7 linked regions of the Homo sapiens genome follow. The protein of the gene in region 6 purifies or fractionates together with the protein of the main gene of each other region. This does not show direct contact. Each region holds a gene or a part of one and is shown on either strand. Other genes may lie near its edges. The genes, in order: HADHB, INTS7, SLC39A10, EXOC1, TGS1, TMEFF1 and ATP1A3.

Region 1 (3,500 bases), on a different chromosome or scaffold from region 6:
TTCCACTATCATAGCATGGCCCTGTAAAGAAAACAAAGTCCAATTAGAGCAATGAATGGTGATGAATCCACCTAGTACAGGGACAGCAGAGAACAAGGAGAAAAGTACAGGCTTTGGAGTGGGATCCTGGCTCTGCCAATCAATCACTGTGATCTTGGGAAAGTTTGTAGTCAGTCTAAACTGGAATTTCCTCTACAAAATGGGGCTCATAGTGTCTACTTCATAGAGTTTTTGTGGGCATCACATAACATACAGTATATTTGTATATGTGTGTATATATATACACACACATATATATTTATATACATTCATATATACATGTATACATATATGCATCAGGCTCTGTCTAGTACAGAATCTAATTCCTAGTGATGCTCTACAAATGGATGCTGTTAAAATGAGAAATCCAGGGGCTTTTTTAACTGTATAAACATAAACATGATACAGCAAATACCAATAAAAGTAAGTTTCTAGAGGGGAAAACTGAGGCTCTGAAAGGTTAAGTGACTCACCCAAATCACAAAGCTATTAAGGTAACAGGGCCAGGATTTGAAACCAGGTCTAGATGATTCCAAAGGCTGGGCTTGTCCCTTCTTCACTATTCTACACAGGTTAAGATAATGATCTGAGGGACCACAAAGGGAAGAAGTAGAATATCTTTCTTTTTTTATTTTTTTTATTTATTATTTTGGAGACCGTGCCTCGCCGTTGCCCAGGCTGGAGTACAGTGACGCGATCTCAGCTCACTGCAAGCTCCGCCTCCCGGGTTCACGCCATTCTCCTGCCTCAGCCTCCCGAGTAGCTGGGACTACAGGCGCCCGCCACCACGTCCGGCTAATTTTTTGTATTTTTAGTAGAGATGGGGTTTCACCGTGTTAGCCAGGATGGTCTCGATATCCTGACCTCGTGATCTGCCTGCCTCGGCCTCCCAAAGTGCTGGATTACAGGCATGAGCCACTGTGCCCGGCCAGAAGTAGAATATCTTTTATCCAGCACTATGCACAGTGCTATGTACTAGCTATGTCCTTAGTTTAGATGAGTCTAAATCCTAGCATAGAATTTTTAGACACCCTCTAAAAAACAAAAAAGTAAATAAAAGAAACTATTATTTACAAAGTGCCAAGTTGAACACTGCAGGTTTAAAGATTTGCCACATGGTCTTTGTCCTCAATCAAGTATACACTGGAGTTCAAAACAAACTGTTAAGTACTTGGTTTTTCTGTTTTTTTTGAAACAGGGCCTCCCTCTGTCACCCAGGCTGGAGTGCAGTGGCCTGAACACGGCTCACTGCAGCCTCAACCTCCCGGGCTCAGGTGATACTTCCACCTCAGCCTCCCGAGTAGCTGGGACTACAGGCACCCACCACCACGCCCAGCTAGTTTTTGTATTTTTAGTAGAGATGGGGTTTTGCCATGTTGTCCAGGATGGTCTCGAACTCCTGAGCTCAAGCAATCTGCCCACCTCAGCCTCCCAAAGTGCTAGGATTACAGGCATGAGCTACCACACCTGGCATGTTAAGTACATTGAAAAGGCACAAGCAGACAAAAAAAGAGCAGGGATAGGAAGGTTTGACTGACTTGGGGGTTGTCCTGAAAGAATTCATAATAAGGTAGACTACTCCTCTCTGGCTTGCTTATTTTATTTTTTATTTATTTTAATTTCTTTATTTGCTTTTTGAGACAAGGCAACTCTGTCACCTAGGCTAAAGTGCAGTGGCGTGAATACAGCGCACTACAGCCTCAACATCCCGGGCTCAAGCAATCCTCTCACCTCCCTCCTGAGTAACTGGGACCACAGGTGCGTACCATCATACCTGGCTAATTTTTGTATTTTTGGTAGAGACGAGGTTTTGCCATGTTGCCCAGGCTAGTCTCGAATTCCTGCGTTCAAGCCACCCAGCTGCCTTAGCCTCCCAAAATGCTGCGATCACAGGCATAAGCTACCGCACCCAGCCCTCTCTGGCTTTATTTTAAACACACTGTTTTCATGTTCCATGTTTTTTCTTGCTCTAGATCAGATTTGGCAACACCTGGAGATACTTTTGGTTATACCAACCGTGTGTACCTGGGGCAGAGGTGGGGAGGAGCTTGTTGCTACTGCTATCCGATGGGTAGAGGCCATGCTAAACACCCTACAACACACAGCCCCCCAAAACAAAGAATTGTTTGGCCCAAAATGTTAGTGCCAAAGTTGAGAAACCCTGCTCTAGATTCACCACGATGGATTTCTCCTCTGTCTCCAACCATGTTGGTATTGCTCACGTGGCTCTTGATCAAACAATGTCAAGTTTAATCTAGTTTCTCAGATGCATCTTATCTTCTCTCTTCATACTATAAACTTCTAGAAGAAAGGTGCTAGGTATTATTCCTTGTTCATCCATAAAAGCATCCAGTATTGTGTTATTTATACTCTACATGCTAGATAAAGAATTAGGGAACACATACTCAAATCTGCAGACATTACCCTATGTGGATTACGCACTATGCTCGTGAGTAATGTGTACAGGTTATCTCCCTGGTAGAAGCCTGGCATGAAGAGATAGAGGGATCGCTCTAGTCTTAATGGACCATGGTTTTCTGTAGATGAAGTTACACAGATTAAAAAGCATTTGTGATCATAAAGTCCAAAATGTTCCAACTGATAAATAACTGACCCCTTGGTTTCTGCAAAGTCTCTGAGGAAAATCCATGAAAAAGGGCTTTTAAACGTAAGATTTATTTCATTTACTTTATTTTTGAGACAGAGTCTCTCTCTGTCACCAGGCTGGAGTGCAATGGCGCCATCTCGGCTCACTGCAACCTCCACCTCCCGGGTTCAAGCGATTCCCCTGCCTCAGCCTCCTGAGTAGCTGGAATTACAGGCGCACACCACCACACTAGGCTAGTTTTTATAATTTTAGTAGAGACAAGGTTTCACCATGTTGGCCAGGCTGGTCTCGAACTCCTGACCTCAAGTGACCTACCCGCCTCAACCTCCCAAAGTGTTGGGATTACAGGCGTGAGCCACTGCACCCGGCCAGTTTATGCTTTTAAATATTTATTCATTTTGATCAGGAACAGGAAGTTTCTGTAATCTAGAGGAAGAGAAAATCTGTTCACATCGGGATTAAAAAAAAAAAAAAAAAACAAAAACAGGCCAGGCACAGTGGCTCATGCCTGTAATCCCAGCACTTTGGGAGGCTGAGGTAGGCGGATCACCTGAGGTCAGGAGTTCGAGACCGGCCTGGCCAATACGGTGAAACCCCGTCTCTACTAAAAATACAAAAAAAATTGCCCGGGCTTGGTGGTGAGCACCTGTAATCCCAGCTACTCAGGAGGCTGAGACAGGAGAATCGCTTGAACTCGCGAGGCAGAGGTTGCAGTGAGCCGAGGTGGCACCACTGCACTCCAGCCTGGGGGACAGAGTGAGACTCTGTCTCAAAAAACAAACAAACAAAAAACAAACTACAATCTTCCTTTTGGATTTTATTCCTAGAGTGAGATGCTACAGCAGTCAGGAAG
Region 2 (3,500 bases), on a different chromosome or scaffold from region 6:
GAGGGTATTGCAAAATCTGCACCATTCTTTTAAAAGGCAAAATGGTGACTTTCTGCCTGAAAACAGCCTGAAGTCCCTTGTGGTCCTCTGAGTCCACGCTTCAAAGATGTTTCTCTCCTTAGACACTAGTGTGGCATCAGAGGTCCACCAAAGGTGGATGTCTCTGCAAATACTTTCCAAATTACTTGTTGCAGGAAGCTGATTAATGCTATTTTAACAGTTAAATCTGAAAAAATAGAACCAGTGTCTTTAAATCTGTGTTGTGATTATCTCAGGTAATAGACTTGGCATTTGTACTATGAGTCTGTTGGGCACAAAATGTTCAATTGCCTGAACCCAATAAGGAATGGATTTTTCTGGCTTTTAGCCTTAACACCCAACTTTAAAAAAAAAAATGTTTACAGCATGAGCAACTAGGTGACACTCTGCTTGAAAGCAGGAGCCTAGAGGGACAGACAGCATACCACATGGTGCATGCAGCAGTTTTCAACCTGTGGTGTTGGGTTTCAATCAGGCTGGTGGGAAAAATATTAGAGATAGTTATAGAAATAGACACAAATCTTCTTGGAAGGCTGAGAAGTTTGCCTAACTTCAGTAATAGATCTGGCTGAAGGCGGCCTGATCTCTTTACCTTTAAACAAATTAAAATAGTAATAAAGAAAGGCAGAGTAGTTTACCTGGCTAGCTTGTTTACTCATATAAAGACTAACCTTTGATGTACCGTGAGTGCTTAAGTGCCTTTTACTCAGAAGTCCACAATGTCAATTTCCCTCTAATGGTGTTGACTCAAGCTTTTGTTAATTAATCTTACTGAATAAATGCGAGTCTGACTAGCTGATCAGGGCCTAGTTGCAACTGTTTACAGGACTCAGCAGGAGCCTGTAAGCGGCTGGGACCCTCAGCTGGACTGGCAGAGCAGAATATCTGTGTGTCAGCATACTTTATTTATCCGTTGCTGAATCGGGTCTGCAAGAACAGACCTCCCGCAGCTAGTGCCCCCGTGAAAGGAGCGCTGCCTCACTGTGGTGACTTACGAGGCCACTGAGACGGGAGTAGACTGAGGAAGGGATAGTAGACCAAGCAGGAATGGTTCTGGTTCACCTGAAGTTAAAAGTGTTCTTATGATACTTTCAGTTTTCTTCTATTAGACTGGGTAATCTTTAAAATATCTTTGAACGCTTAAATTCTGATTTTATGACCACTTTCATTAAGGCTCAAAATATTCTCTGTGGTGTTTCTGTACCTCTGCAGTCATGCTGGGATTTTCAAAACTCAGTTAAATGTGTGAGGCAGATTTGAGAAATAAGATATTTTATTAGAGTTTCAGGATTCCCCGACTATATAGTCCTCTTTCATCTGAATTCGACCAAGTTTCCACCACTGCTTACTCTGAGGACCAATGGCCATAGAGACAAGCCACCTAATGAAAGAATGAGCCAGCTCAAAGCCAAAGTCCTGCAAAATGCTCGGGCTTCTTTACCATACTGTTTATCATACTTTGCCATGTGATAGTTACTCTATATTTTAGTATCTAATATAATTGTTTAATAATATACTGATAGTTCTGAGCGCTGTAGAAATGTGGAATTTGCCTATTGCTTGGCCTCGAGGACTGTGGATTTTCTCATTTCTGTCACTTATATTTTATTGAATATACTTCACAATAAAGTAAAAATCTGTAATGAATGATTTAGTATGTATGCACAGTTCCTGGATGTGATGCCTAGTTCTTGATTGGTATGTACCTTTGTAATAATCTATATGGGCATTTGTAGTTTTATACTGAATGTACCACTTGTTGATGAAATTTGAAAATTTATTTTTATTTGATTTAGTTTCTTTTTTCCCCCAGCACACAGCATGCCTCTGCAATGCCATCATTGCTTTGCTGAAAGTTCCCCTTTCTTTCCAGAGATATTTTTTCCAGAAACTACAGTCTACCAGCATCAAGGTAATACAGGAAGAATACTAAGGTTAATATAGGTTTTAAAACCAGGTGTCTTCTGAAGATTATGTAGGACATAGCTACACTTCAGTGTGTTACCTTTGGTTTATTGGTTTTTTTGTTTTGTTTTGTTTTTTGAGACAGAGTCTCGCCCTGTCGCCTGGGCTGGAGTACAGTGGTGTGATTTTGGCTCACCGCAACCTCCGGGTTCAAGCGATTCTCCTGCCTCAGCCTCCCAAGGAACTGGGATTACAGGCATCCACCACCTCACGCAGCTGATTTTTTTATTTTTGGTAAAGATGGGGTTTCACCATGTTGGCTAGGCTGGTCAGGAACTCCTGACCTCAAGTGATCCACCCACCTCTGCCTCCCAAAGTGCTGGGATTACAGGCATGAGCCACTGTGCCTGGCTTACCTTTGGTTTTGATAAAACCTAGTTGTAAGCCATTTCTCTCCTTTATCAAGTGGTTTGGTGAAAGAAATGAATTTGGGAGTTAAACTCTCTCCCTTTTTAATTGTCAGTGCCAAATTCTATGAGACAGGCATTTGGGTAACTGGAGCTCTGTTGTTTGTCTCTCACCTCCAGGAATAAATTAGTGATTTATCACAGTAGCCTGCAAGGATCTTGAGCTGAGTCTATTCAGACCCAACTTATAGACCCAACTTAGAATGAATCAGATCCAGTAAACTGTCACCAGTTCTTCTTCCAAAGTACTTCTGCCTTTCAGTAACATGTTTTGAGGGGCTAACCAGTGAGTAGAATTAGTATTTTGAAATATTTAAGCCACTCACAATTCAAAAGCTATTTTTGATTCAGAAAATGAAATTGTTGGAAAAGGGAGAAAATTGTCACTTCTAAGAGATCTCCTGGATTATCCCTGTTAGTTAATGTCTTCAGTAAACTTTTACATCCATGCAAATGTTTTGATTACAAATAACAGAGCATTCCATTTCAAAATGACTGGAATAATGAGGAAGATTTGACGATCTAGATAAGAAGTCCTAAAGTAGGATGTCTCCAGGGTTGATCAGTAGTTCAACAACATTATCAAAAAGACTCAAATTTCTTCCATCTTTTCATTTAGCAAGACTTGGGCTTTCTTTAATTGATGTGTTTGGGATTTTTAATACATTTTTGAAGAAAAACTAATGAGAGGTGAAAAATGTCATTTGATTCATTTGTAGATATTGACTTTTTTTATAGCACAGTGACTTCGTTGTGTAGATAATCCTGGAACTTTAAGTTCATTTACATTTGAATTTAGTTTATTTAAAATTACGTAAGACCAAAGAGACAGCTCTTAGGTAATGAAAATTTATATAATGCCTTTCCCTACTAGAAGTGGTTCATTGTCAAAGAAATGCCTCACCACAAAAATTGGGAGAATAGTGCCTTTGCTTTTTTCTAATTCTCTATTATCCTCAAATAGAACTGAGGTTTGGGATGAAAACCACAGTGATGTTTAGAAGGAGGCACTTTAAAGGTACATCTGTCTCGTTGTCCTGGCACAGTCAGGTCCTGTGGGGGTGGGGGAGTGCACAATCGAATTTGTTA
Region 3 (3,500 bases), on a different chromosome or scaffold from region 6:
TGGAAATGCCATGAGTTTAGTATCAGAAGGACATTATTACTAGTGCATTTTAAAGTGATACCAGTCATAGTTGCAAAAGAAAGTACACAATGGGAAATGGAAGAGAAATGTAGGGAATCAAAACAACTAGTTTTTTCCTTTATAACGGAAGTTTTATAATTCATCTTTTATGTAAGTGTAATTCTCATTAAAAATACCCTAAAGCTTAAAGTTTGCAAGGCTGCCCAGCCTAACCCACAACAGTTTGATGCTGCCCCCTAGCGTTTGATTCCCTTCACCTTTTGCTAAAATAAGGTAATGTTTAAATTACAATTAGATTTACTTACTGCTGTAAATCTGGTCTATTTTAGTTTCCTCTGGGTAGTTAGTGTTGCTAATAAGATGGACGTAAGTGTTTTTGAACTGGTGAATTCTGATTGCTTTTAGCCCCCAGTTTTCCAAATAGGGGTGAATTTTGGGTAGAGATAGAACAATCACCAAGTTACCTTGCTCCAAAAAAGAAATTTACGTATGGGATTGTTTTCAAAGCGGGAAGTTAGCTGTGTAAATAACAACAATTTTATATATTTAATCTGGGCTTCTCCTTATCTTGAATGATATAAAAATCTACTTTCTAGATTAATTTAGTTCCATATAACTTTGTATTGCTTTGACTGTACTGATAATAAAGTTTGAAAGTGTTAAATTTACATTGTGAGCTTTTTTTTAAAATTCGAATTTATTTTCTATGACTTTTATAGAATGATTCTTAAAAAATAGTTTCAAGGACCTCTTCATAGCCACAAGATTTCCTTTTTTATATCATTAATATTATTTTATGTGAATACTATAATGAAACCCAAGTATTCAGTTTACACACAGATATTATAACACAATATACCACTACACAAAGGCAATGAACAGATAACATTCTACAAAATCTACTTTACAGAAAGGATTTTCTGTAGTCAATGCAAACTCTTAAGGTTTTAGGTTTTATTTAGATTATTGCAATATCAGTATTTCAAACTCTTTTTTTTCTTTTTATTATCCCTTATAAGTTCTATGGATAGGCCACAGGATAACTTTTAGCTTTTTCTAAAATATCCAAACATATTCTCAATAAAAAATTAGTGGAATGCTTAAAAGTATAGTAGGTATGAAGAAATATAGAATCAAAATTACAGTTTTAAATAATAGTATGTATTTATTTATATAGAGACAAGGATCTTGCCATGTTGTCCAGGCTGGTCACAAACTCTTGGGCTCAGGCAATCCTCCCATCTTGGCCTCCCAAAGTGCTGGGATTACAGGCATGAGCCACCGTGCCCAGCCAGTAATACTAAATTATTTCCAAATTAACTGCTTAGGAGACCACATACAATGTTCAGACATGTTAAAACAGGACACAATTCATTGTATCACATCAGTAATTCTGTGTCGAATACTGTTTTCCTATCAGAACGTAAGGGTTTTTTTGGATTGCCAGATACAAGGAGTGGTTATTTAATAGATTTTTAATGGTAGATATTTTTATGTTAAAAGATGTTAGAATAGGATGCTACTGGTGATACAGGTTTGCAGGCTTGTACAAGTATAAGGACAAAATCTAAAATCTTGCTCAGGTAGTGTTTATTTTCACAATCTAAAAGTAAATATTTTGTCATAACCTTTTATAATCATGTTTTATAATTACTCATTTTTAGATACTGCTGAAAGGGAGGTATCAGATAATACTTATCCTTGTATTAATATTTCTAATCAATTTTACCCTTTTATATACTCGACTTTGGGGGACAGCCCATCCCGTTAAGATTTTTAGGGATTAGAAAAGCAAGAATGTTGTAGGATGTATCCTTATTAATATCATTATGTACTTCCATAGGACGAGAAGTATTGTTATAAGAACTGTGAACTACGAAGGAGGTTAATTTTAATCCTCTATAATGAAGATTTAATCAGTGATCACTTTAGGTTTTAGATTTTCATTGAATAAAGGAAGAAGAAAAACCTCAGTCACTTTTAGTGTAGTAAGAACATCAGAGATATGTATCCTACTGTGGTGTTCCCTTTTTTTTTTTTTTGTGAGACAGTATCTCTGTTCCCCAGGCTGGAGTGCAGTGGTGAGATCAGGGCTCACTGCAGCCCTGACCTCCTGGGCTTGGGTCATCCCCTTACCTCATCCTTCCTAGTAGCTGGGAATACGGGAGCGTGTGCCACCATGCCTAGCTAATGTTTTGTATTTTTTATTGTAGAGACAAGAGTTTCACCATGTTGCCCAGGCTGGTCTCAAACTCGAACTCAAGTGAGCTACCTGCCTTGGCCTCTTGAAGTGCTGGGATTACAGGCATGAGCCACCGTGCCCAGCCTATGCTATTACTTTAATATCTATAAATAAAAAGAAACAATTTCAGATATTCCTTGCCTTCCCACCTCTAGGCTTTTTTCTAAATTCACTTTTATATATTTGAATTTTTGAGTTTTAAAATAGTGGTTTCCCCTATAATTGTCTGCTGGATTGGCACTTTAAAAAAAAATCTGTAAATTAAATTTGGATCAGCAAACTATGGGCCAAATATCCCTGCTTCTGTAAATTGTTGGAACAAAACTTGCTTATTGATGTGTGTATTGTCTATAGCTGCTCTTGCGGTAAAATACTTTAGTAGAAAAATGTTCAGTCAAATGATCAATTCATAGGTAATGTGAATTTGCAGGTGTTCTTTACCTACATAGTAGAGAAGCTTTTTGTCTCTTTCCGCTTTCCATTTTTCCTCTGCAGAGGGAATTATGCTTTATTATGCTTGGAGTCGGAAAAGGAATGTGAAGCCCTTGGCCTTCAACTGTTGGTTACCACCGAACTGTCACACTGTTTGTAGCTACTTATGTAGCTCTCTCACAGTTTACCTTTTCTAATTGAAAAGCTGATTGTGTCTTCCTTGTAACTCTCTCAGAGCAGGAAATGGATCATATTTTTATGCCGCCTATGTCTCATGTCTTCTTTCCCTTCCCCTTTCCCTCCTATCTTCTCACTCCCCTCATAAAGCAATTCAAAACTGCATGCTTACAGGCCTTTAAACAAATATTTTGGTATATTAACTCAGTGCACTTCTACTGAAGATGACTCCTTACATTATTTTGCTTGCATGTGAAGAAATATACTTTGCACTGTGTTATAGAGGAACATAGCTTCTTGATGAAAGGGGCTAGGGAAAGATTTATTTAAATACTTTATCAATATAAATGAAACAATACATGGTGTGTTACTACATTATAAAATGAGATCAGTAAAACAATGTAAGAAAACGTAATAATAAGATAGTATAATATACACATAACGTATTCTGTGTATATATACATTATAAGGCAGTGAGATCATGTTTTCTATTCCCATGGACCTTTTTTAGAAAAGCATATCATATTTTCATAATTTTTTAATGTTTGGAATATACTGTTTTTAAGATTTTGATTTTATGGTGTTTCAAGAATATAGAAGTTATGAAAAAAAAAGAAATAAGAGAAAA
Region 4 (3,500 bases), on a different chromosome or scaffold from region 6:
AGGTAAAAATCTAAAGAATGATTGACATAAGTAAAGTCTGTGAGGCTTGAAAGAGCAAAATACCATTTCAAAGAGCAACAATACATTTATATATAAAGTTCTTACTATGTTGCCCAGGCTGGTCTTAATTAAACTCCTGGGCTCCAGCGATCTGCCCACCTCAGCTTCCCTAAGTGCTGGAATTACAGGCATGAGCCACTGCTCCTGGCCTAAGAATTTCTTTATAGCAATGCAAGAATGGCCTAATACAAATACATTACGATTGAGTGAGGTCATTCTAAAAAGTCAATTTATCATTTCAAAAACCAAGTACAATTATATACTACACTAACAAGGAAGAAAATTTTATGATATCAATGATATGAAAAAGCAGTTGATAAAATTCAACTCCCATTCATGATTTTTTAAAAAAGTGTAAGAAACCAGGAATAGAAGGGAACTTACTTAACACTGTAAAGTATAGCTATAAAAACCCTATACCAAATACCATGCTTGAAAATGAAGTCATTCTCCTTGAGATGGAGACTGTATTGATAGTCCTAACTAGGAAACTAAACCAACAAAAATAAAAGATATAAAAACTATAAAGGAAGGAAGAAAAATATCACTACTTTCAAAAAGTCTACATATAATTAGAATTAATAAGAAAGTTTGGCAAGATTGATAGACATCCATATAAAACACCAACAATTCATTGTAGAATTCTAACAATATATGATTTTAAAATGTATTAATGTTAATAAGCGCTTTCACGACTATCAAATAAAATCTAAGAATAAACCAATACTCAGGAGTAAATCCAAGAATATACATGACAAACCTTTAGAGAAAATGATGAAACTTATAAAGTTAAAAAACACCTAGATAAATAGAGAACTGTACCATGTTCATGGACACAAAGATTCAATACAATAAAAATGCAAGTTCTCTCCAAATTGAACTATAGGTTCAAAACAATTCCAATCAAAATCCCAACAAAGTCTGAAACTCGACAAGTTGTTTCTAAAATTTAGGTGGAATAAAGAACAAAAACAAAATAAAAATAACATATAAGATGACAACCAGAAATGCTCACACACACCATGACAGATGTCAACACAGGTGAACTAAGACTAAACTGTAAAAGGCAAAATTATAAAACTTTTGAATTTAGGAAAATATTTTTATGACTGCACAAAAGATACAGGGAAGGATCTTTTAAGACACCAAAAGGGAAAGCCATAAAGGATTAATTAATTTCATTTAGTTTAAATTATAAATTTCATTAACAGGCATCATAAAAAGTGAAAAGACAAGCCACTAACTGGGATGCATACAACCAACAAAAGGTTGATAACCAGATTATAGAAAGAACTTGTACAAATCAGTAAAAGGACAAGCAACACAACAGAAAAATGAGTAAAAGGCTTAAACAGGTAAATTTCATACACAACAGAATGAAATGACTAAGAAATTCATGAGAAGATGCTCAATCTCATCATTATAGGGAAATATAATTTAAAACCACAATGAGATACTATTTCACTGCCACCAGATTGACAACAATTAACAGCCTGTCAAAGCCAAGTGTTAACTAGGAATGTGTTGACCCAACAATTTTTCCAATTACAGAGACAATGAGGATATTCAAAACAAAGAGGAAATATCTTCTAAATAATAAAAGGATACAAAACAAGTACTCTTTCTTACTAAATACCCACCTGTGGCACATAAAAAACAGTTCTTTTTCTTTTTTCCTGCTTTGCAGACATTCACAATGCTCAGCAGGCGTTCATCATTTGGTGTAAAAATGTCTCTTTGTAATGCATGCTTGATTGCTGTCATCTTTTCTCAGCTGAAAAATGTGGAGTATAGATATTAAGCTCACCCTCAACATCATTCCATCTTATACTTCTGAATTTATGATTTGAAAATAATTTTTGGTTAACAAGCCTAGGAAAAATGATTTAATATATGAATACACCTATATCACAAAAATACAAAGCTGTAAGTTTGGAAATAAAATTAGAGAACCAGTGTTATCAAACTCTAAAATGTTTGGAAATGCTCACCAAGTATACACACACACACAAGATTTAAGAAAAAAATCTTCAACCCACTGCTCAAACTTTTAATATAGTTTTCTACATAAAGAACCCTTACAACAATAAGAAGACAAATAACCCCATTAAAAACTGAATAAAAGACCTGAACAGACATTTTTCCAAAGATATACAAATGGCCAATAAGCATATGAAAACATGCTTAACATCACTGGCCACTAGGGAAATGCAAATCAAAACCACAATGAGGTATCAACCACTTTACACCCATGAGGGTGGTTAAAATAAAAACGATAGAAAATAACAAGTGTTGGTGTAACAAGTGTTGGTGAAGATGAGAGGAAACAGAACTCTCATACATTGCTGGTGGGATTGTAAAATGGTGCAGCCACTTTGGAAAACAGCTTGGTGACTCCTCATAAAGTGAAACATGGGCTACCTTATAATCCAACAATTCCACTCCAGGAGAACTGAAAACATATGTCCACACAAAAATTTGTACATGAATGTTCATGGTAGCACTATTTGCAATAGCCAAAAAATGGAAATAACAGAAATGTCCATCAAATGATACATAAGCAAAATGTGGTATATCCATACAATGGATTATTATTCGGCTGCAAAAAAAACAAAGGGCCGGGCACGGGCGGTGGCTCACGCTTGTAATCCCAGCTCTTTGGGAGGCCGAGGCGGGCGGATCAAGAGGTCAGGAGATCGAGACCACGGTGAAACCCCGTCTCTACTAAAAATACAAAAAAATTAGCCGGGCATGGTGGTGGGTGCCTGTAGTCCCAGCTACTGGGAGAGGCTGAGGCAGGAGAATGGCATGAACTCGGGAGGCGGAGCTTGCAGTGAGCCGAGACTGCGCCACTGCACTACAGCCTGGGAGACAGAGCCAGACTCTGTCTCCAAAAAAAAAAAAAAAAAAAAAAAAAAAGAAAAAAAGGAAATGAAGTAATGAAACATGCTAAAATATTGATGAATCTTGAAAAGATTATGCTAAGTGAAAGGAGTCAGCCACAAAAGACCACGTATTGTATGATTCCATTTATATGAAATATCCAGAGTAGGAAAATCCATAGATACAGAAATATAAGTGGTTTTCGGGAGCTGGAAGGGAAGGTGGAAACGAGGATTGACTGTTAATGGGTATGGAGTTTCTTTTTTGGGGTGATGACAATGTCTTTCAACTAGATAGTAATGATGGTTATACAACCTTGTGAATATGCCAAAAATCACTCAATTATACAATTGAAAAGGGTAAATTTTATGATACATAATCTCAATAAAACTGTTATAAAAATAGGTTTCCACTTATCTCCTTTTTCTTATCTAACTCAGCATCTTTTCAAACATCAACTTAAAATAATTTTAAATCTCTATTTTATTTTTCATATACATATTTGTGTGGATATGTATTACAATTTTTCAATGCAAATGTGTAGTATTTCATACATG
Region 5 (3,500 bases), on a different chromosome or scaffold from region 6:
TGATTCCCAGTTTTCTAGACCAACTCTGTTCTTGGTGAAATCAGTGCTTAATCATACACTGCAATTCAGGATAAATATATGATCAGTTCCTAATATTTACTAGCCAGCTTTTCCCTTGGGAAGTTTGCTGCTGCACAATTAGAGCAGAATCGTTTGTTCTTAAACCATATATATTGTCATGCTCTAGAGGGGTTGTGGAACTGATTGGCCTCATAGTTGACTTGGGAAGACACAAATGCAGCTTTGCTGAAATGCTTCTAAATATAGCTTGTATCTCCTTCACTACTGTGGGTAACTTTTCTCCGTAAATGATGGAGATAGAAATTAGAGGGATATCCAGCTCTTCTGGGCCACACATAGTGCTACCTGCCAGTCCTGTGCTGATAGCCTGTGCTTTCTGTAATTTGTTGAATTGAACAGTCTTCATGTTTCCAGTATCTGGTTCTGAGAATGAGTGAAGGACAGAGCTTAGTGAACTGGTTGTTTTTGGGTTTTGGTGGGGTTTTTTTCTTCTTTGGAGACAGAGCCTCGCTCTGTCCACAAGGCTGCAGTACAGTGACATGATCACAGCTCACTGCAGCCTCAACCTCCCAAGCTAAAACAATCCTACCTCAGCCTTCAGAGTAGCTGGAACCATATGCATGGGCCACCATGCCTGGCTAATTTTTTTATTTTTTGTAGAGACAGGGTTTCACCATGTTGCCCAGGTTGGACTTCTAGGCTAAAGCAATCTTTCTACTTCAGCCTCCCAAAGTTCTGGGATTACGGGCATGAGCCACCGTGCCCGGCCTGGTAGCCTCCTCTTAGGACACCAGTGTAGGTTAGCTTGTGATGCCTGGGAGATTTTTTTTTTTTTTTTTTTTTTTTTGAGATGGAGTTTTGCTCTTGTTGCCCAGGCTGGAGTGCAATGGCCTGATCTCAGCTCACCACAACCTCCACTTCCCGGGTTCAAGCAATTCTCCTACCTCAGCCTCCCAAGTAGCTGGGATTACAGGCATATGCCACTATGCCCGGCTAATTTTTTTTTTTTTTAGTAGAGACGGGGTTTCTCCATGTTGGTCAGGCTGGTCTCGAACTCCCGACCTCAGGTGATCTGCCTGCCTCAGCCTCCCAAAGTTCTGGGATTACAGGTGTGAGCCACTGTGCCTGGCTGCCTGGGAGAATTTTTTTGACCTGCCACCAGGTGCTCCTGTTGATGATGGTGGCTTTAAGATTTATTTACGGAAGCATAGAAATCTCATTTCTGTTTACCATGTGCAGAGAAATGGAACTAATTTAATGAATATTTTTAAGTTTGAATGATGCCTGATTTTCTGCTGACTAAAAAATATTTTCTTCTTTCACCTCCCAGAGAACTTTTAATTACCAGAAATGTTTTGCCAACTTTGTTTTATTTTCATGTGGTTATTAGTTGGATCTAGCAAAAGAAAAGAGGGACAAAAATAACTAGTGGCAAAGCACTTTCTTGGCCTGTGTGACATTAGGTTTGTAGTCACAGCCAGTATTTCAGATGCTTGCTGCTGCTAGCATTGTATTTGACACAGATCTGAAGGCCACATAAAATGCTCTTTATTTTTACCTGGTACAATTATCTTCTAACCACATTTCTGCGTATCATAGATATAATCTCTTCCATGTAGTAATAGGGCATTTTTCAGCGCTCTGATGTTTCTGTGTCTTTCTTGTAATAAAGTGTATCTGTCATTAGTAATTATTATCTATTCTTCCAGTAGGATGCAGTTGGGAGGTTATTTTCTCTCATTCGGTTATCGTGCACTTTTACTTTAAATCCAGTTTCTCTTGAAAAAATGCAGTTTTGCTCCAGGCGCAGTGGCTTAAGCCTGTAATCCCAACACTTTGAGAGGCCGAGGCGGGCGGATCACCTGAGGTCAGGAGTTTTGAGACCAGCCTGGCCAACATCGTGAAACCCTGTCTCTACTAAAAATACAGAAATTAGCCAGGTGCGCCAGTAATCCCAGCTACTCGGCAGGCTGAGGCAGGAGAATCGCTTGAACCCAGGAGGCAGAGGTTGCAGTGAGCCGAGATCATGCCACTGCACTCCAGCCTGGGCGGTAGAGCCAGACTCGTCTCAAAAAACAAAACAAAACAAAAAAAAAGTGCAGTTTTGAATGTTTACCTTTTTATTTGATGCTTAAATCTTCTGTGCTTTAACACCTTCATTGTGATCTTTTCTGTTTCTCCTTTGCCAGTCCCCAAAGAACAGCTTTACTGCCTGATGTCAAATCTAGTCAAGAGTTCAGTCCTTAATTCTAGTTCTGGTCCAAATTAATTGGGATTTATTTTGGTAAAATTAATATATTTAGGTAATATGCCAAAAATGTGGAAAGTAATCCAGAGCTGCTAATCTTTATCTGTTTGTACCTGCCGTTCTCCCTCTCTCTGTCCTTCCTACCCTCTCTTCCTCTCACAATTTACTAAATTCTAAGAAAGCGGAGGGAACCAAATAATATTTTGTCAGCTAAACCTTCTAGTGAAAAATAAGGACAGCTAGAAATTAATGGCATTCATTAAATTTGCCTGAAGCAAAGTTATTTGCTTGAACTACTAAATTTATAAGTCTTTCCAACTCCAAAATTCTAACTTTTAACATATATGTAGTTGTGAAAATGTGAAAACGTACAAAAAGGCTAAAGTTAGAAATTATTCGTAATCAGAACACTTGAAAGTAACATGTTAAGTTTTTAAAAAAAAATTGTTTCTAAACACTAAGTACATAAGAGTTTTCTCACTATATTTTGTCACATAGATACACCACCTTCTCCATTATCAGGAACAATATTTGTTTTATTTGTCCGTCATCTGACTCTCCCAGCCAGAATGTAAAATTCATGGAGGTGGGGATTTCTTGTTTGTTTTTTGCTATACTGCACTGCCTAGAACAGATACCTATAAGCTCTCAATAATAGTTATTGAGTAAAGTAATTTATGAACTGTTTTGCACAGACTTCAGAACTCATGATTTCTGAGAAAACCCCCATCTTACCTCCGTTTTTTATTTTAATCCCAAGCACCCACATCTAGACAACCCTCTGAAAGGTATTAAGAAAAACAAAACTACCCTACCTTCTCAGAAATTGGTTTTTATGGAATTCTATTTATGGCTTATATAAGAAATAATAACCATCGGCCAGGCACGGTGGTTCACGCCTGTAATCCCAGCACTTTGGGAGGCCGAGGTGGGTGGATCACGAGGTCAGGAGATCGAGACCACCCTGGCTAACACGGTGAAACCCTGTCTCTACTAAAAATACAAAAAATTAGCCGGGTGTGGTGGCGGGCGCCTGTAGTCCCAGCTACTCGGGAGGCTGAGGCAGGAGAATGGCATGAACCCAGGAGGCAGAGCTTGCAGTACTAGCCGAGATCACGCCACTGCACTCCAGCCTAGGCAGCAGAGCGAGACTCCATCTCAAAAAATAATAATAATAATAACTATATTTATAGTACCTTTATTTTTTTTTTCAAGTAAACTTCAGAAATGG
Region 6 (3,500 bases):
TTGTTTTTTTTTGTTTGCTGGAAAGCGTAGAGCCCAATGTGAAATGTACTGGGAAGTGTCTAGGAACCTCAGGGACTGGATTGGTAGACTTGCAGCACCCCTGGATTTCCCTGTTTCCCTCCTCCCACATTTCTTTTTTGTTGTTTTAATGTGTGCTTTGCGATAAGCTGCCTCAAATTCTTTTCTTAATGAGTTGTGGGACATTCATAAATACTGTTTTTATACTTCAAATGTTTTATTAATCAGTTCTCACTGAAGGCTGGCTAATTTATACATTTCACTGCTGTCAGCTTAAAAATGTAAATTGTCTGTTAAGTGTCTTAAATATTTCTCCCTGTCAAATTATCATCAGCTGATGCAGTTGTCTTTTTATCTACTTTTAATTGGAATTCAGATAATTTCCAAGATTAGCACCTACAGCTTACCTCCTTGACTGCTTGACATTGTTTCTGTTATTAATAACTTATTTTCATCTTCCCCTTGCATCTTACATGTTTATATTTTATACACTGAAAAGTGTCTTGAATATAATTTGGTGCTATGTTCAGAGGACTGTAAATGTTTATACCTATTTTTTCAATAGTCTTAATTTTCAGGTACTTAGCCCTAAGGAATAACACTAAATATAGAAAAGCGCATATTCACCAAGATGTTTACCACATCTAATTTATAATTGTGAAAAATTGAAAATAACTGACATGTCTTAGAACTGGGAATAGATAATGCTAGCTATATTATAGTCACTGGATGGAGTATTATATTTCTGTTTTGAAATTATATGTATCTATTTTGAAAAAAATGCTAAGAGAGTAGATTTTAAGTGTTCTCACCACAGACATGATAACTATATGAGGTAATGCATATGTTAATTAGCTTGATTTAGCCATTCCACAATGTCTATACATTTCCAAATATCATGTTGTACATCAGTGGTCCCCAACCTTTTTGTTGCCAGGGACTAGTTCCGTACAAGACAGTTTTTCCATGGACTGGGGATTGGGGGTGGGGGTGATGGTTTGGGGATGATTCAAGTGCATTACATTTATTGTGCACTTTATTTCTATTATTATTACATGGTAATACTTAATGAAATAATTATACAACTCACCATAATGTAGAATTGGTGGGAGCTCTGAGCTTGTTTTTCCTGCAATTAGACAGTCCCATCTGGGGGTGATGGGGGACGGTGACAGATCCTTAGGCATTAGATTCACATAAGGAGCACTCAACCTAGATCCCTTGTGTGCGCAGCTCACAATAGGGTTTGCGCTCCTATGAGAATCTAATGCCAGTGCTGATCTGACAGGAGGCGGAGCTTGGGTGGTAATGTGAGTGATGGGGAGTAGCTGTAAATACAAAGAAGCTTTGCTTACTTGCCCACCACTCACCTCCTGCTGTGTGGCCTGGTTCCTAACAGGCCATGGACCAATATCTGTCCATGGCCCGGGAGTTGGGGGGGATCCCTGTTGTACATGATAAATATACGTAATTTTATTTGTCAATTTTTAAGCAAATTTAATTTAAAAAGTGAAAAAAAGGAGTAAATCTTTGTGGCTTTAGATTAGGCAATAATTTCTTAGATATGACACCAAAAGCAAAAGCAACAATAACAAAAAAAGATATACATTAACAATATTCAGCAACTTTAAAATTAATGTGATATAACTTAGGTGAAAGACGCACCATGTAGGCATATCAGAAAGACAGTAGGGAAACATACAAATGACATTTTTCCCCCAGATGGTAGGAAAGTGCATGATATCCTATTCCTGTTTAAATTTTATTACTATTTTGTATTTTTTAATGTAAAAGCTTGGGAGTATCAAAATTTGTAATTTTCATAGGAATATATATATTTTTCCTTTTCAGATGTGAATCTGGCTACACTGGACAGCACTGTGAAAAGACAGACTTTAGTATTCTCTATGTAGTGCCAAGTAGGCAAAAGCTCACTCATGTTCTTATTGCAGCAATTATTGGAGCTGTACAGATTGCCATCATAGTAGCAATTGTAATGTGCATAACAAGGTAGGTAATGATGTAAGAAATATCAACTTTAAATTAGAGGCAGGCAACTGTTTATTTATAGATGCTTTGAGGCCACCAGTCTATTAGGAAAAATCTTATGATCAGTTCCCTGAGGTTTTCAGTGGTCTCTCCCTATCCTTCTTCTTTAGGATACGGGCAGGGACTAATTCCCAGTCTTACAGGTATATCTGGGCGACAAGCAGAGAGGGAATGAGAATAGTCAATGAGATAAAGGAATTTAGGGATCTGAGAACTGTATACAGTCTTTGAACACTGTATTCTGGGAAAATAATGTTAGTAGCAATCTTTTTTTTTTTTTTTTAAGAGACAGGGCCTCACTCTGTTGCCCAGGCTGGAGTGCAGTAGCAATTAGAGCTCATTGCAGCCTCAAATTCCTGGGCTCAAGTGGTCCTCCAGAGTAGCTGAGACTATAGGCGTGAACCACCCTGACTGGCTCAGAATTTCTAGAATGATCTGCACATGCATAGGAGATCCATGCAGAAGATTTTTAAGCCCTGCACAACTGCAAGGGGTTCTGTGCCCTAAGAACGTACTTTACTCACAGTTAGTATAGTAAGAAAGGAAGAAATCAGAGGCTGAAGATAGTTTTATTGTGATATCATGGTGTTAACATTACTTCATTTTCAGGATTGCAGCGATAAGTAATAAGCTTTAAAATTCTGTATTATAAATAAAATTATTCGTCATAAATTAAATGACTTATTTGGAGTGCAGTGGCATAAAATGGGTCTTTTCTAAACTGAGTAGAAATACATAAGTCAGACTGAACTGGGCCTGAGAAAAGTCAGAGTAAATCCAGCAAGTTCGTGTTGTCTTTGTGCTTCCCAGTCTAATGCTTTTCTTCCTGCTTACCTCTTTCTTTAAGCTTCAGTTCAGAAGTCTCATAAGCATCATTTCTCCACTTCCCTGCATTATTCTGGGCAGAGGGTTGAAGCATATCAAATACAGATATTGGCAGGCCATAATGGATTTGTGGCCCTTCTATCCAAGGTCTGGATAGAAGCCAGACCTTCAGTAGTCTCAGCCATCTGGAGCTGAGATGATAAATCTAGAAATGATAAAAAAGAAAAGGTTCTCCAAGTAACAGATATTTTTCATAACACCTAGGCATGAAAGTCAGTGCGCTTTATTTCACAGAACAGATGATCTGCCCTTAGGCAAGACTACTGAATATAAAATTGGACGGTAGATCAAAGTAGGGACATAATCATGTAACAAATAATGATAACAGAAAGAGAAGATAGGGAAAACACATTTAACAGCATGACTGGCTGTAGCCATTTAATATAGACTCAGAGGTTAAGTAATTTGTCTGTGGTCATCCGACTAGTAAGTGGAATTGTCTGGATTTGGATTCAGTTTGATTCCCATTCATTCTTTACACTGAAAGGTTCCATGTTGAGTCATCTTGGGAAACATGTTTGCCCAGTATGACCATTGCATGGGAGCAG
Region 7 (3,500 bases), on a different chromosome or scaffold from region 6:
ATAAATAAATAAAATAAAATAATAAGCCTGGCGCAGTGGCTCACGCCTTTAATCCCAACAGTTTGGGAGGCTGAGGCAGGAGGACTGCTTGAGGTCAGGAGTTTGAGACAAGCCTGGACAACATAGTAAGAACCCATCTCTACCAAAAAATGTGAAGGCTGGGCGCAGTGGCTCATGCCTGTAGTCCCAAGACTTTGGGAGGCCGAGGCGGGTGGATCACCTGAGGTCAGGAGTTCGAGACCAGACTGGCCAACATGGCAAAACCCCATCTCTACTAAAAGTATAAAAATTAGCCAGGCGTGGTGATGGGTGCCTGGAATCCCAGCTACTCAGGAGGCTGAGACAGGAGAATAGCTTGAGCCTAGGAGGCAGAGCTTGCAGTGAGCCGAGATCGTGCCACCTCACTCCAGCCTGGGCGACAAAAGCGAGATTCTGTCTCAAAAAAAAAAAAAAAAAAAAAAAAATTTTTTTAAATTAGCCAGGCGTGGTGGTACATGTCTGTAGTTCCAGCTATTTGGGAGGCTGACCCGGGAGGTTGAGGCTGTAGTGGGCCATGATTGAACCACTGCACTCTAGCCTGTGTGACAGAGGGAGACTCCATCTCAAGAAAATAATAATAATAATAATTATTATAATAATAATAATTATTATTATTATTTTTAAAAATTTTTTCTCTGGCTGCTTTGCTGCCAGCTTCACCCCAGAAGTCCATTCTCTGTGAGGTTCCGCCTGACAGCTGTGAGCATATTGACTAAATGCTGTCTTCAAGGTGCATGGCAGGGACTATCTTAGAAATACCATTCTCCTCTTTCATTCTTTGACTTAATGTTTTATGTGAAGTTTTCCATATTAGGGCCGGGCAGGGTGGCTCACGCCTGTAATCCCAGCACTTTGGGAATCCGAGGTGGGTGGATCACTTGAGGTCAGGAGTTCAAGACCAGCCTGGCCAACATGGCAAAACCCCATCTCTACTAAAAATACAAAAATTAGCCAGGCGTGATGGTGGGCGCCTGTAATCCCAGCTACTTGGGAGGCTGAGGCACAAGAATTGCTTGAACCTGGGAGGTGGAGGTTGCAGTGAGCTGAGATCGAGCCACTGCACTCCAGCCTGGACGACAGAGCAAGACTGTGTCTCAAAAAAAAAAAAAGTTTACTGTTTTCCATATTAGCAATGTTGAATGCTACCCTATGTCAAATGGATTTTTATACGCAAAGGATTAAGCATATTGTGAGCACATAGTCTGATGATTTGGGGCAAACTGAACAGAATCACGTCAGCTGCAACGAGACTGCGTCTCCCTGAAGCCCCCTCAAGACCTTATTTAGCCCCTGCCCCCCAACCCAAGGGTAACCCCTGATCTGGCTGCTAACAGCATAGATTAACTTTGCCTGTGTTCAAACTTCCTATTAACGGAATAATTCAGTATGAACTCATTTCTGGCTCTTTTTGGCTGAACATGTTTTTGACGTTCACCCATGCAGGTGCAGGCAGCAGTAATGTATTTGTTTTTATCAATGTTAGTATTCCATTGTCCACAATTTATCTTTTCTGCTGTTAGTGGACATTTGAGTAGTTTGCAGTTTTGGACAATTTTTTTTTTTTTTGAGTTGGAGTCTCACTCTGTTGCCCAGGCTGGAGTGCAGTGTCACGATTTCGGATCACTGCAACCTCCACCTCCTGGGTTCAAGGGGTTCTCGTGCCTCAGCTTCCCAAGTAGCTGGGATGACAGGAGTGTACCATCATGCCCTGCTAATTTCTGTATTTTTAGTAGGGATGGGGTTTCACCATGTTAGCCAGGCTGGTCTCGAACTCCTGATCTCAAGTGATGCGCCTACCTCGGCCTCCCAAAGTGCTGGGATTACAGGCGTGAGCCACTGCACCTGGCTGTTTTGCACTATTATGCATGTGGCTGCTATGAGCATTCTAGTCCCTGTCTTTGGGTGTCTCTGCCCTGTTTCTATTGGTCTGAATTGGGGGTGGCATTGCTGGGTGCTGCCTCATTCTTTTCCAGGCCCTCAGGATTCTCTGGGGGCTGGGCAGCTGGGCTGTGGCCCTCGTGTCGCTCATCCAACCCTGCTGCCGGGCTTGTCCCTGTAACTTGCCTGCCCTTGCTCGTCCTCCAGGTGTGTCTGACGCTGACCGCCAAGCGCATGGCCCGGAAGAACTGCCTGGTGAAGAACCTGGAGGCTGTAGAAACCCTGGGCTCCACGTCCACCATCTGCTCAGATAAGACAGGGACCCTCACTCAGAACCGCATGACAGTCGCCCACATGTGGTTTGACAACCAGATCCACGAGGCTGACACCACTGAGGACCAGTCAGGTGAGCGCAGGCCCCGGGTGAGGACCATGGGGGCCTGGCTCCAGGAGTCCCTGGCCCTCACACATGCCTCCCCCAGGGACCTCATTTGACAAGAGTTCGCACACCTGGGTGGCCCTGTCTCACATCGCTGGGCTCTGCAATCGCGCTGTCTTCAAGGGTGGTCAGGACAACATCCCTGTGCTCAAGGTGGGTTCAGCTACTGGCCTCACCTCGGCCCTGCCTGTGTCCTCCCCTCAGCTGTCCCTGTTCTGACAACCCTTTCTCCTTGCAGAGGGATGTGGCTGGGGATGCGTCTGAGTCTGCCCTGCTCAAGTGCATCGAGCTGTCCTCTGGCTCCGTGAAGCTGATGCGTGAACGCAACAAGAAAGTGGCTGAGATTCCCTTCAATTCCACCAACAAATACCAGGTACTCTGGGCTTTCCGGGAGAGCCAGCCTGGACCTCAGGTTCCTTATGACGCCTGTAAAGAGGTGTCATAGAGCCTTGATTTTCCCGTCTGTAAAATGGGAATGATAATACCCGCCTGGTGGGGAGAGGAACAGGGAGAGCTTGAGAGTGGGAGCCGGATCTCTGTTGGAGTGAGACGCTGAGGAGTAAAGATCTTCCTGCAGGCCAGGCGCGGTGGCTCACACCTTTAACACCAGAACTTTGGGAGGCTGAGGTGGGGGGATCACTTGAGGCCAGGAGTTCGAGACGAGCCTGGGCAAGATGGCAAAACCCCATCTGTACGAAATTTTTTTTTTAATTAGCCAGGTGTGGTGGTATGTGCCTGTGGTCTCAGCGATTTGGGAGTCTGAGGCAGGAGGATTGCCTGAGCCGGGGAGGTTGGGGCTGCAGAGAGCCTACATCACGCACTGTACTCCAGCCTGGGTGACAGAGCAAGACCCTGACTCAAAAAAAAAAAAAAAGTTTTCCTACAGCAGAGAGTGGGAACAAGCAGGAGACCTCTTGGGGCAGAGCAGCAACTTTAAATTATTCAGCAAACTTTTTTTTTTTTTGAGACAGAGTTTCGCTCTGTCACCCAGGCTGGAGTGCAGTGGCGCGATCTCAGCTCACTGCAAGCTCCACCTCCCGGGTTCACACCATTCTCCTGCCTCAGCCTCCAGAATAGCTGGGACTACAGGCGCCCGCCACCATGCCCAGCTAATTTTTTGTATTTTTAGTAGAGACGGGGTTTC

Evidence for each region.
Region 1: the proteins of TMEFF1 (region 6) and HADHB purify together in Homo sapiens (affinity purification with mass spectrometry, with the first as the bait; one large-scale study listed by BioGRID). This does not show direct contact.
Region 2: the proteins of TMEFF1 (region 6) and INTS7 purify together in Homo sapiens (affinity purification with mass spectrometry, with the first as the bait; 3 studies listed by BioGRID). This does not show direct contact.
Region 3: the proteins of TMEFF1 (region 6) and SLC39A10 purify together in Homo sapiens (affinity purification with mass spectrometry, with the first as the bait; one large-scale study listed by BioGRID). This does not show direct contact.
Region 4: the proteins of TMEFF1 (region 6) and EXOC1 purify together in Homo sapiens (affinity purification with mass spectrometry, with the first as the bait; one large-scale study listed by BioGRID). This does not show direct contact.
Region 5: the proteins of TMEFF1 (region 6) and TGS1 purify together in Homo sapiens (affinity purification with mass spectrometry, with the first as the bait; one large-scale study listed by BioGRID). This does not show direct contact.
Region 7: the proteins of TMEFF1 (region 6) and ATP1A3 purify together in Homo sapiens (affinity purification with mass spectrometry, with the first as the bait; one large-scale study listed by BioGRID). This does not show direct contact.

The regions. Positions count from the first base shown.
Region 1 is NC_000002.12:26,286,439-26,289,938, reverse strand, and holds part of HADHB (trifunctional enzyme subunit beta, mitochondrial isoform 1 precursor), read right to left. Parts: intron 22-3,500; coding exon 1-21. UniProt on the Homo sapiens protein: Mitochondrial trifunctional enzyme catalyzes the last three of the four reactions of the mitochondrial beta-oxidation pathway.
Region 2 is NC_000001.11:211,945,058-211,948,557, reverse strand, and holds part of INTS7 (integrator complex subunit 7), read left to right. Parts: intron 1-1,852; coding exon 1,853-1,951; intron 1,952-3,500. UniProt on the Homo sapiens protein: Component of the integrator complex, a multiprotein complex that terminates RNA polymerase II (Pol II) transcription in the promoter-proximal region of genes.
Region 3 is NC_000002.12:195,660,226-195,663,725, forward strand, and holds part of SLC39A10 (zinc transporter ZIP10 precursor), read left to right. Parts: intron 1-3,500. UniProt on the Homo sapiens protein: Zinc-influx transporter. When associated with SLC39A6, the heterodimer formed by SLC39A10 and SLC39A6 mediates cellular zinc uptake to trigger cells to undergo epithelial-to-mesenchymal transition (EMT).
Region 4 is NC_000004.12:55,856,648-55,860,147, reverse strand, and holds part of EXOC1 (exocyst complex component 1), read right to left. Parts: intron 1,835-3,500; 5' UTR 1,825-1,834; coding exon 1,701-1,824; intron 1-1,700.
Region 5 is NC_000008.11:55,818,446-55,821,945, forward strand, and holds part of TGS1 (trimethylguanosine synthase), read left to right. Parts: intron 1-3,500. UniProt on the Homo sapiens protein: Catalyzes the 2 serial methylation steps for the conversion of the 7-monomethylguanosine (m(7)G) caps of snRNAs and snoRNAs to a 2,2,7-trimethylguanosine (m(2,2,7)G) cap structure.
Region 6 is NC_000009.12:100,570,649-100,574,148, forward strand, and holds part of TMEFF1 (tomoregulin-1 precursor), read left to right. Parts: intron 1-1,869; coding exon 1,870-2,028; intron 2,029-3,500. Other genes in the region: MSANTD3-TMEFF1 fusion protein, read left to right, coding at 1,870-2,028.
Region 7 is NC_000019.10:41,980,731-41,984,230, reverse strand, and holds part of ATP1A3 (sodium/potassium-transporting ATPase subunit alpha-3), read left to right. Parts: intron 1-2,124; coding exon 2,125-2,323; intron 2,324-2,399; coding exon 2,400-2,509; intron 2,510-2,594; coding exon 2,595-2,729; intron 2,730-3,500. UniProt on the Homo sapiens protein: This is the catalytic component of the active enzyme, which catalyzes the hydrolysis of ATP coupled with the exchange of sodium and potassium ions across the plasma membrane.